Homo sapiens: one gene and its partner. The protein of the gene in region 1 purifies or fractionates together with the protein of each later gene. This does not show direct contact. Each region holds a gene or a part of one and is shown on either strand. Other genes may lie near its edges. The genes, in order: DYM and HHIPL1.

Region 1 (3,816 bases):
TTCAGGTCAGGGCTCAGGATTGTGAAGGGGAAGGTCCTCACCTCCAGAATGGTGGAACCCTGAGGACAGTGCCTCTCAAAAGCCAGTCCCTAGCATTGCACTCTGGGGAATATCAGCCTGAGCCTTGTCTGCCTCCCAGGCAGGGTCCATGTCTCAGCTAGGATATTTCTCATCATACCTTAACCACTGTTGGGGTCCCTAGCAGGGAACTATCAGCCAAACTGACATTAGCCAACCAGGACCCATTGTGTTACTTGCTCTCTCCATCGGTAATTCACATTTTCTCAGGAGCCATTTGATAGCTGAAATATTTTAAAGCCCCAGAGCTTTCATGCCCTGTGACCAGTTGGCAGGGGTGGGTGGGCTCCCCGCACACCACAGCACCACCTGCAAACTCTCACCACTTTTGCTTGTGCATGGAACTGTGGGATTATAAAATCATCTTATTTTCATTGCAGAAATTTCCAGAATTGAAATTCAAATATGTGGAAGAGGAGCAGCCCGAGGAGTTTTTTATCCCCTATGTCTGGTCTCTTGTCTACAACTCAGCAGTCGGCCTGTACTGGAATCCACAGGACATCCAGCTGTTCACCATGGATTCCGACTGAGGGCAGGATGCTCTCCCACCCGGACCCCTCCAGCCAAGCAGCCCTTCAAGTTCTTTTATTTCTGGGTAACAGAAGTAGACAGACAGGTTACTTGGTGTATCTTCTGTTAAAGAGGATTGCACGAGTGTGTTTTCCTCACACACTTTGATTTGGAGAATTGGTGCTAGTTGGCAATAGATAACTCAGCGTAGATAGTATTGCAAAAAGGGGAGGAAATACACAACAATAATAAATGTAAAAACCTGCTATTCAACATGCAGTTTTATTTCGAAGCCAAAAATCTAGAGCTTTCCCAAGATCCTGTTGCCTTAGGCACATCACACTTCAACAGTGCACACTATCCAACAGTGCACACTATTCAACAGTGCACACTATTCAAAAGCGTAGACTATTTTTTTGCATGTTCAAGATATTTGTTTTGGTCTTATGTGTGTGTGAGAGAGAGAGATTCCTTTGACATTAAGGAGCATCAATGAGAAAAGATGATGAGGCAGGAATTAATAAAGAAATGAAGTCGTGTGTGTTTGGTTGCCTGTCAGAGGGCACACAATTTCATAAACACCATGCCTGGACAATTTGATATTAATATTTAACACCTCTGCATCTTTTCTTAAAAAAGAATATGGGCCAGATACAGTGGCTCACATTTGTAATCCCAGCACTTTGGGGAGCCAAGTTAGCAGAATCCCTTGAGCACAGGAATCTGAAACCAGCTTGGGCAACATAGTGAGATCCCATCTCTACAAAAAACTTAAAAATTAGCCAGGCATGATGGCACATTCCTGTAGTCCTAGCTACTCAGGAGGCTAAGGTAGGAGGATTGCCTGAGCCCAGGAGTTCAAGGCTGCAGTGAGCTAAGAACGTGCCAGTACACTCCAGCCTGAGCCACAAAGTGAGACCCTGTCTCGCAAAAAAAAAAAAAGAAAGAAAAGAAAAAGAAAATGGCTACTTCTCATGAAGCCCAGATTAACTTTTCTGTGAATATGGCCTGTGAACTGTTGCTGGAATTAAATTGGAGTCTAGCACAAATTAAGTTAATCTACTCTGTATTAATCATTGGGAAAAAGAAAAGCTTCATTTGAAAACAGTCTTTTTCCTTCACCCACACTAATAGAAAAAGGAGAGTAATTTGTTCATACTGTATTCCACGTGGGATGAAAAGCATGTTTTGCTCTTTGTTTCTGGGCCGGTGTGATCCGTGTGTTGGTGCCTGAGCTGGAGGAAGGAGCTTCTTGCAGGGAAACAGCCACTGGGGCCACATTGAGGGCCAGTTGGGACCTTCCTTTCCAGTCACACTCTGTGTCCTCACGGGCCCCTTCACAGTCTAGATAAGGAGCCTAGTTTCATTCTCAAAGAAAAAGTATTTGGTCTTCAACATAGAAAGCACAAAAGCCCAGACGAGACTGAGCACACTGTTCGAATCCACTGCCAGCTCATCTGTGTCAGGGCTGGCTTCTCCTGTCCTGTGTCCCAGGGCTGCAGGCCCGTGTTATTTGAGTCCATCAAATCTTCCGAGGGCCTCGGAGGAACCATTCTCAGTCACCCCAAGCTCTGTAAAAGGTCAAAACACTGGCAGCCTCTCAGTGCACCACTGTGTGGGCTCCACACGGGAAGGCCTGGCCAAGCTGTGCTCTTAGAGGCTGTCGAGGTAGGGCAGGAAGCTTCCCTATCCTCGTCTGGATGGAATGAAACAGAGGTTCCCTAAGGCCAAGGGACTCGTGGAGCGCCCATCCCGGGTGGGGTCCCAGAGGTGAGTGCAGCTTGCCTCCTGTCCCCAAGGGGCTTGTTCTGTCAGGCCTCCTCCAGTCACTGCTGGAGTGGGGACTCTGACTCCTGTGTTCACCTCAGAGCCCATGTACAGGCTAGAGGTGAGGCTTGGCAACAACTTCTACTAATACTTAGCTTTGTGGCAGAGCCAGTCTGAAGGAGGAGAAGCGCTCTCAGCCAGCAGGGGGAGTGATGATTATCATTTCAGGTAGCAAGGATATGTATTTACTATGTGGGGAAATAATTTGCAACTTTAATTTGTTTCCAAAGCATTTTGATTGGCTTCCTTTTCCTTTAAACCAAAAAATTGTTTAAATGTTTAAGGGTCATGTGGAACAGCTGAGCTTCTGGCAGGACCACAGAACTGTCCTCTGAGTCTGAGGGCTGGGCAGTGCCACAGGACAGTCCCTGGGCTGCAGGACTGTCAGTGCTTGTTGTGTGAGGAAATGAGGCCCTTCAAAAACCCAGTCATCTTGACAGAGGGCACACTCCCAAGGAAGGCCTGACTGGGGAATCATACAGCCTCTCCTCCAGGCCTCTGGGCTCACTGAGGTGCCCCCAGAACCCTGATTGCCCTCCCCTCTTTCCCTTTTCTCATTCATCACACAGTAGAAGCACTCACTAGCTAACAGCTCAGCTGGGGCAGCAGCCTCCATGGAGGCCTGCAAGTGATGCTCCCAGTCCTGGTTCCCGCTCAGGAGGGAGGCCCCACCACGTGCATCACTGCCTCAGCTCTGCAAAGTCACCAGAGGCTTCTTCCTGATTTTTGTGAAAGATTTATTATATGGCAATAAATCTGAATGATAAACTTTCATTATACTTGCATTAATTTTGAGTATTAGTTTGCTTAGAAATTTTTACACGAAGTAAAAATGTGTAATGATGCAACACAGGATCATCGTGTGTTCAGATGGAAATTGGCATCTGATTTTACCCCAGATCTGAAGCTGTTACTGCATTGTGTCATTTTATCAACAAAGACTTCTGCCACAATATTTACTTTTAAAAGAATTTGTCCCTTTCAATAGCATCTTCCCTATCAAGAGTTCAAGGCACTTTGCAGAAGAGCTTCAGATTTCTAACTCTAGTTCCCACAGTCACCCGTTGAGGCTGGTGTCATACAATCTATGAACAACAACCTTGCAGCAGGACTGCCACCATTCAGCAGTGCAGACAACACAGCTCAAGGACAAAGACAGAGAAAGGAAAGAAGAGAAGGTCCCTGAAGGTGAAGCATAGAAAGTACACTGCACACACAGTTCTCTCTGGAAGGAAAGCACAGGAGCTGGGAAGTAGACGATAGAAAGTGGAAAGGACACAGGACCAGCATCAGAACACTCAGCAACTTCCTAAGAGCTTGCTAAGGTACATCCAAGAGAAATATTTAGTGAGGGAAACTTTTAAGCACTGGAATTGTTAATATATCATACTTTAAGCAACA
Region 2 (3,816 bases), on another chromosome or scaffold:
TCTGTGTCCCTACCCAAATCTCGTGTAGAATTGTAACCCCCAGTGTTGGAGGAGGAGCCTGGTGGGAGGTGACTGGATCACGGGGCGGAGTTCTCACGCATGGTTTAGTTTAGTACCATCTCCCCTTGGTACTGTAGAGCGAGTGAGTTCTCATTAGATTTGGTTGTTTTAAAGTGTGCCCCCACACCATCTCTCTCTTGCTGCTGCTGTCGTCATGAGACATGCCGCCTCCCCTTTACTTTCCACCATGATTGTAAGTTTCCTGAGAACGCCCCAGAAACAGAGGCCACTATCCTTCCTATACATCCTGCAGAACTGTGAGCCCATTAAACCTCTTTTCTTTATAAATTACCCAGTTTTGTTTTGTTTTGTTTTGTGTTTGTCCGTTAGTTTTTTTGAGACAGGGTCTCTCTTTCTCTCTGTCACCAAGGCTGGAATACAGTGGCACCATCTCAGCTCACTGCAATGTCTGCCTCCTGGGCTCAAGAGATGCTCCTGCCTCAGCCTCCTGAGTAGCTGGGACTACAGGCGAGAGCCACCACGCCTAGCTAATTTTTGTATTTTTTGTAGAGATGGGGTTTTGCCATGTTGCCCAGGATGCTCTCGAACTCCTGAGCTCAAGCCATCTTCCCGCTTCAGCCTCCCATAGTGCTGAGATTACAGGCGTGAGCAACTGCACCCAGCCAGGTATTTCTTTATAGCGATGAGAGAAGAGACTAATACATACTCCCTGCCATTTCACACCTCTGAGCCTCAGCACAGGCTGTTCCCTTTGCAGGCATGCCCTTTCCCTGCTCTTCTCTGGCAGGCAGAATTCTCTTTATTCTTAAATCATGGCCATGGCCGTGGGGGAAGCCATGCTAACCAATCACAGCAGCTCCTGGGGTTTGGGGCAAATTGTGGACCAGGCACCAGGGCAGTGTGCCCATGAATCTGCATTTCCTCCTCAAGGCAACCATGGGAGGGAGGCCTGTTCTTATTACCACTGCACAGAGGTGGAAGCAGAGACAGCAGAAGGGAGCCCAAAGTATCATGTCACATGCCAGTGGGCTGGGGTTTGAGCCACGTCTGCTCAGCTCTACTGGCCAGCTCCCAACTACCCATCCCCAACGCCAGTTAAGTGTCCCCACACCACAGCACCCTCCCTGCACCCTACCCCTACAGCTCCAGGCTGTCTGCGGGCCTCCCTGTTAGAGCCGCCGGCCTGTGGCGTGGTCATTCTTTCTATCTGTGACTGACACCCTCCCCCACCTGTGAGTCCACCAGGCCAAGCCTGGGTCTGAGTCAGCTCTGGGCCCCCAGAGCTTCGGGGGATGCTCCTTCTGCAGTGGGGAGGTACTGACAGCCACACACTCCCTCCCCTCACAGGGAGGACCAGGCTGGGTTCCAGCAAGAGGCCTCTGGGACGTTTGGGGGAGGATTGGGGATGGGGGATGGCAGGCTGCCTCCCGGGGTGTTCTCAAGCCCCAGGCCAGGGCCCACTCACTCCTGTGACATGATTGTGGCTTTTGGTCATACCACAGCATGTCCTCCTGGCCCCTCTACTGCTGTGAGGCTAGGTCTCACCTGACTGGCCAAGGGCCACTTGGCAGAATGTCTTGGGGTCCTGGTCAGTTACTGTCCCAGGTACAGACCAGGGTGCCATGTCTTACATGCTCCCCTCTGCCAGTGAGCAGGCCAGATGGCCAGGCCTCAGGCCGCCGTGTGTGCTGTCCCTCCCATGGTTCACTGGGAACCACCTGTGGGTCAGCCGGCAGCTGCACGTGGACCAGGGAGGGGCTGTGTGCACACGTGCCTTCTTTCATCTCTGCAAGGTAGGGTCATTGTCACTATTTTATTTTATTTGTTTATTTTTTGAGACAGGGACTCTCTCTGTCATCCAGGCTAGAGTGCAGTGGCACAATCCTAGCTCACTGTAGCCTTGACCTCCTGGGCTCTAACGATCCTCCCCACCTCAGCCTCCAGAGTAGCTGGAACCACAGACGTGCTCTACCACACCCGGCTAATTTTCATTTTTATTTTTTGCAGAGACAGGGTCTCTCTATGCTTCCCAGGCTTGTCTTGAACTCCTGGGCTCAAGCAATCCTCCCGCCTTGGCCCGCCAAAGTTCTGGGATTATAGGCATGAGCCACCGTACACGGCTTGACTCCTATTTTATAGATGAGGAACTGAGACTTAAAGAAGGCCACGTGCCAAGAAGTAGCCAAACCAGGGCTCACACCCAAGCCTCATGATGCCTGGACTGGTGTTCTTTCCAGATTAGTCAGCAACATTTCATTCACCAAGAATTTACTGAGCAGAGATTGTACCAGGCACCATCTTGGTTCCAGAGACGCAGTGAGGGGCAGAACAGACATCTGGAAGGCAACGAGAGCCCTCCGTTCACCAAAGCCCAATCCAGAACTACAGAGGGAGCAAAAGTTCCCTCAGGGAGCCAGGCCGAAGACCTCGGCATCCGTGCGTCCCAATCACACAGCAGATGCTTCCTCGTGGCCTATGTACTCTTACTTACACACGACGTAAATGTGGTGCCCAGACCAGGGTAGTCCAGAGCTAGGAAGTGACAAGAAGACATAGTGATTGCTGCTGGCAAGAGGATGATCCGCAGCTTGGCCTCAGTGTGTTTAGGGGCAGGTGGCAGGAAGGCCATAGGAAACCAGCCCAGTATCGCAGGCTTCAGCCGCCCGGGCCATTCAGTGCAGGGCGGAGGGCCCCCATCTTGCCCAGAGTTTGCCACCCCCATGTCACTGACACTCGTGACTCATGGCCCTGGGTCCTGAAGGTTTCTTATGTCCACCGTTCATTTTTTGAAAGAGCAAGCCTTTGCACAGTGTCCTGTCCATCGGATATTTGCTTCTCACCTACTTCCTCATCTGGCAAACTGCTATTCATGACTCAAGGCCTACTCAAAGGTCTCCTCTTGTCCTCCATGCTCCCAGGGCTCTGACTGTCCCATCCCTGGCCCTTATGGATGCTCCCAATGCACTCTGTCCATATCTCAGACACGACACTCACTCCATTGAATCTTGTAGCTTACAGGGTGAGTTCTCTACAGCAGTCACTGCTCCGTCGCCAGGGGCGCTCCAGCCAGTCAGCTTGGCTAGGACTTCATTATCTCTTTGCATGTCTGTCCACTCCACGGACTGTGGGACACAGTGGGGCTTCAAGGAGGGAGGCAGTGTGGCAAAGCGGTTAGGAGAATGGCTTTGGAGCCAGCGCACACATTCCCCATGGGGAATGCTCCTTAACCTCTTACTGCTCTTAACCGTGGGCAAGCTCCTTAACCTCTCTGTGCCTATGTCCTCATCTGTGGAAGGGGAAAGGAATTCCAACCTCATAGAGTTGTTGGGAGGAACAAATGGAGAAGATGTATGTGTTTGTTCAGTAAATAATGAGCTATCAACATGCAACCAACATTCAGGAAGCCTTCCCTGAGGTATGTGGCCTTGTTCCTACACTCCTTGAGGAATTTCTGGCACCTTCCTGTGTGTGTCAGTCTCCTGAAGTGATGAAGGGGATTTTTGAGACTGGGCCTGTGACTTGCCAACTGTTTTTGGGCCCAGCATCCAGCACAGGGCTGCCTCCTAACAGGCTCAGGAAGAGCCTGCTGAATACATGAGCCCATAGAATACATTTCATGGAGATCTCCATCAGAAACCATGCTTTGATGATTTTAGTGGCTTAGAGAGGCAACCCCAGTCACAGGGGAGGTTAGCGATGTGGAAGCTCACACCAGATGCACTGGGGATGCCACGTGCCATGGCTGTCCTCTCTCCTCCAGAGGACACAGGCACTTACTGGACAAGCAAAGCCTCA

What was found.
Region 2: the proteins of DYM (region 1) and HHIPL1 purify together in Homo sapiens (affinity purification with mass spectrometry; one large-scale study listed by BioGRID and IntAct). This does not show direct contact.

Annotation. Positions count from the first base shown.
Region 1 is NC_000018.10:49,040,847-49,044,662, reverse strand, and holds part of DYM (dymeclin), read left to right. Parts: intron 1-458; coding exon 459-608; coding exon of another isoform or gene 609-718; 3' UTR 719-3,816. UniProt on the Homo sapiens protein: Necessary for correct organization of Golgi apparatus. Involved in bone development.
Region 2 is NC_000014.9:99,647,836-99,651,651, reverse strand, and holds part of HHIPL1 (HHIP-like protein 1 isoform a precursor), read right to left. Parts: intron 1-3,816.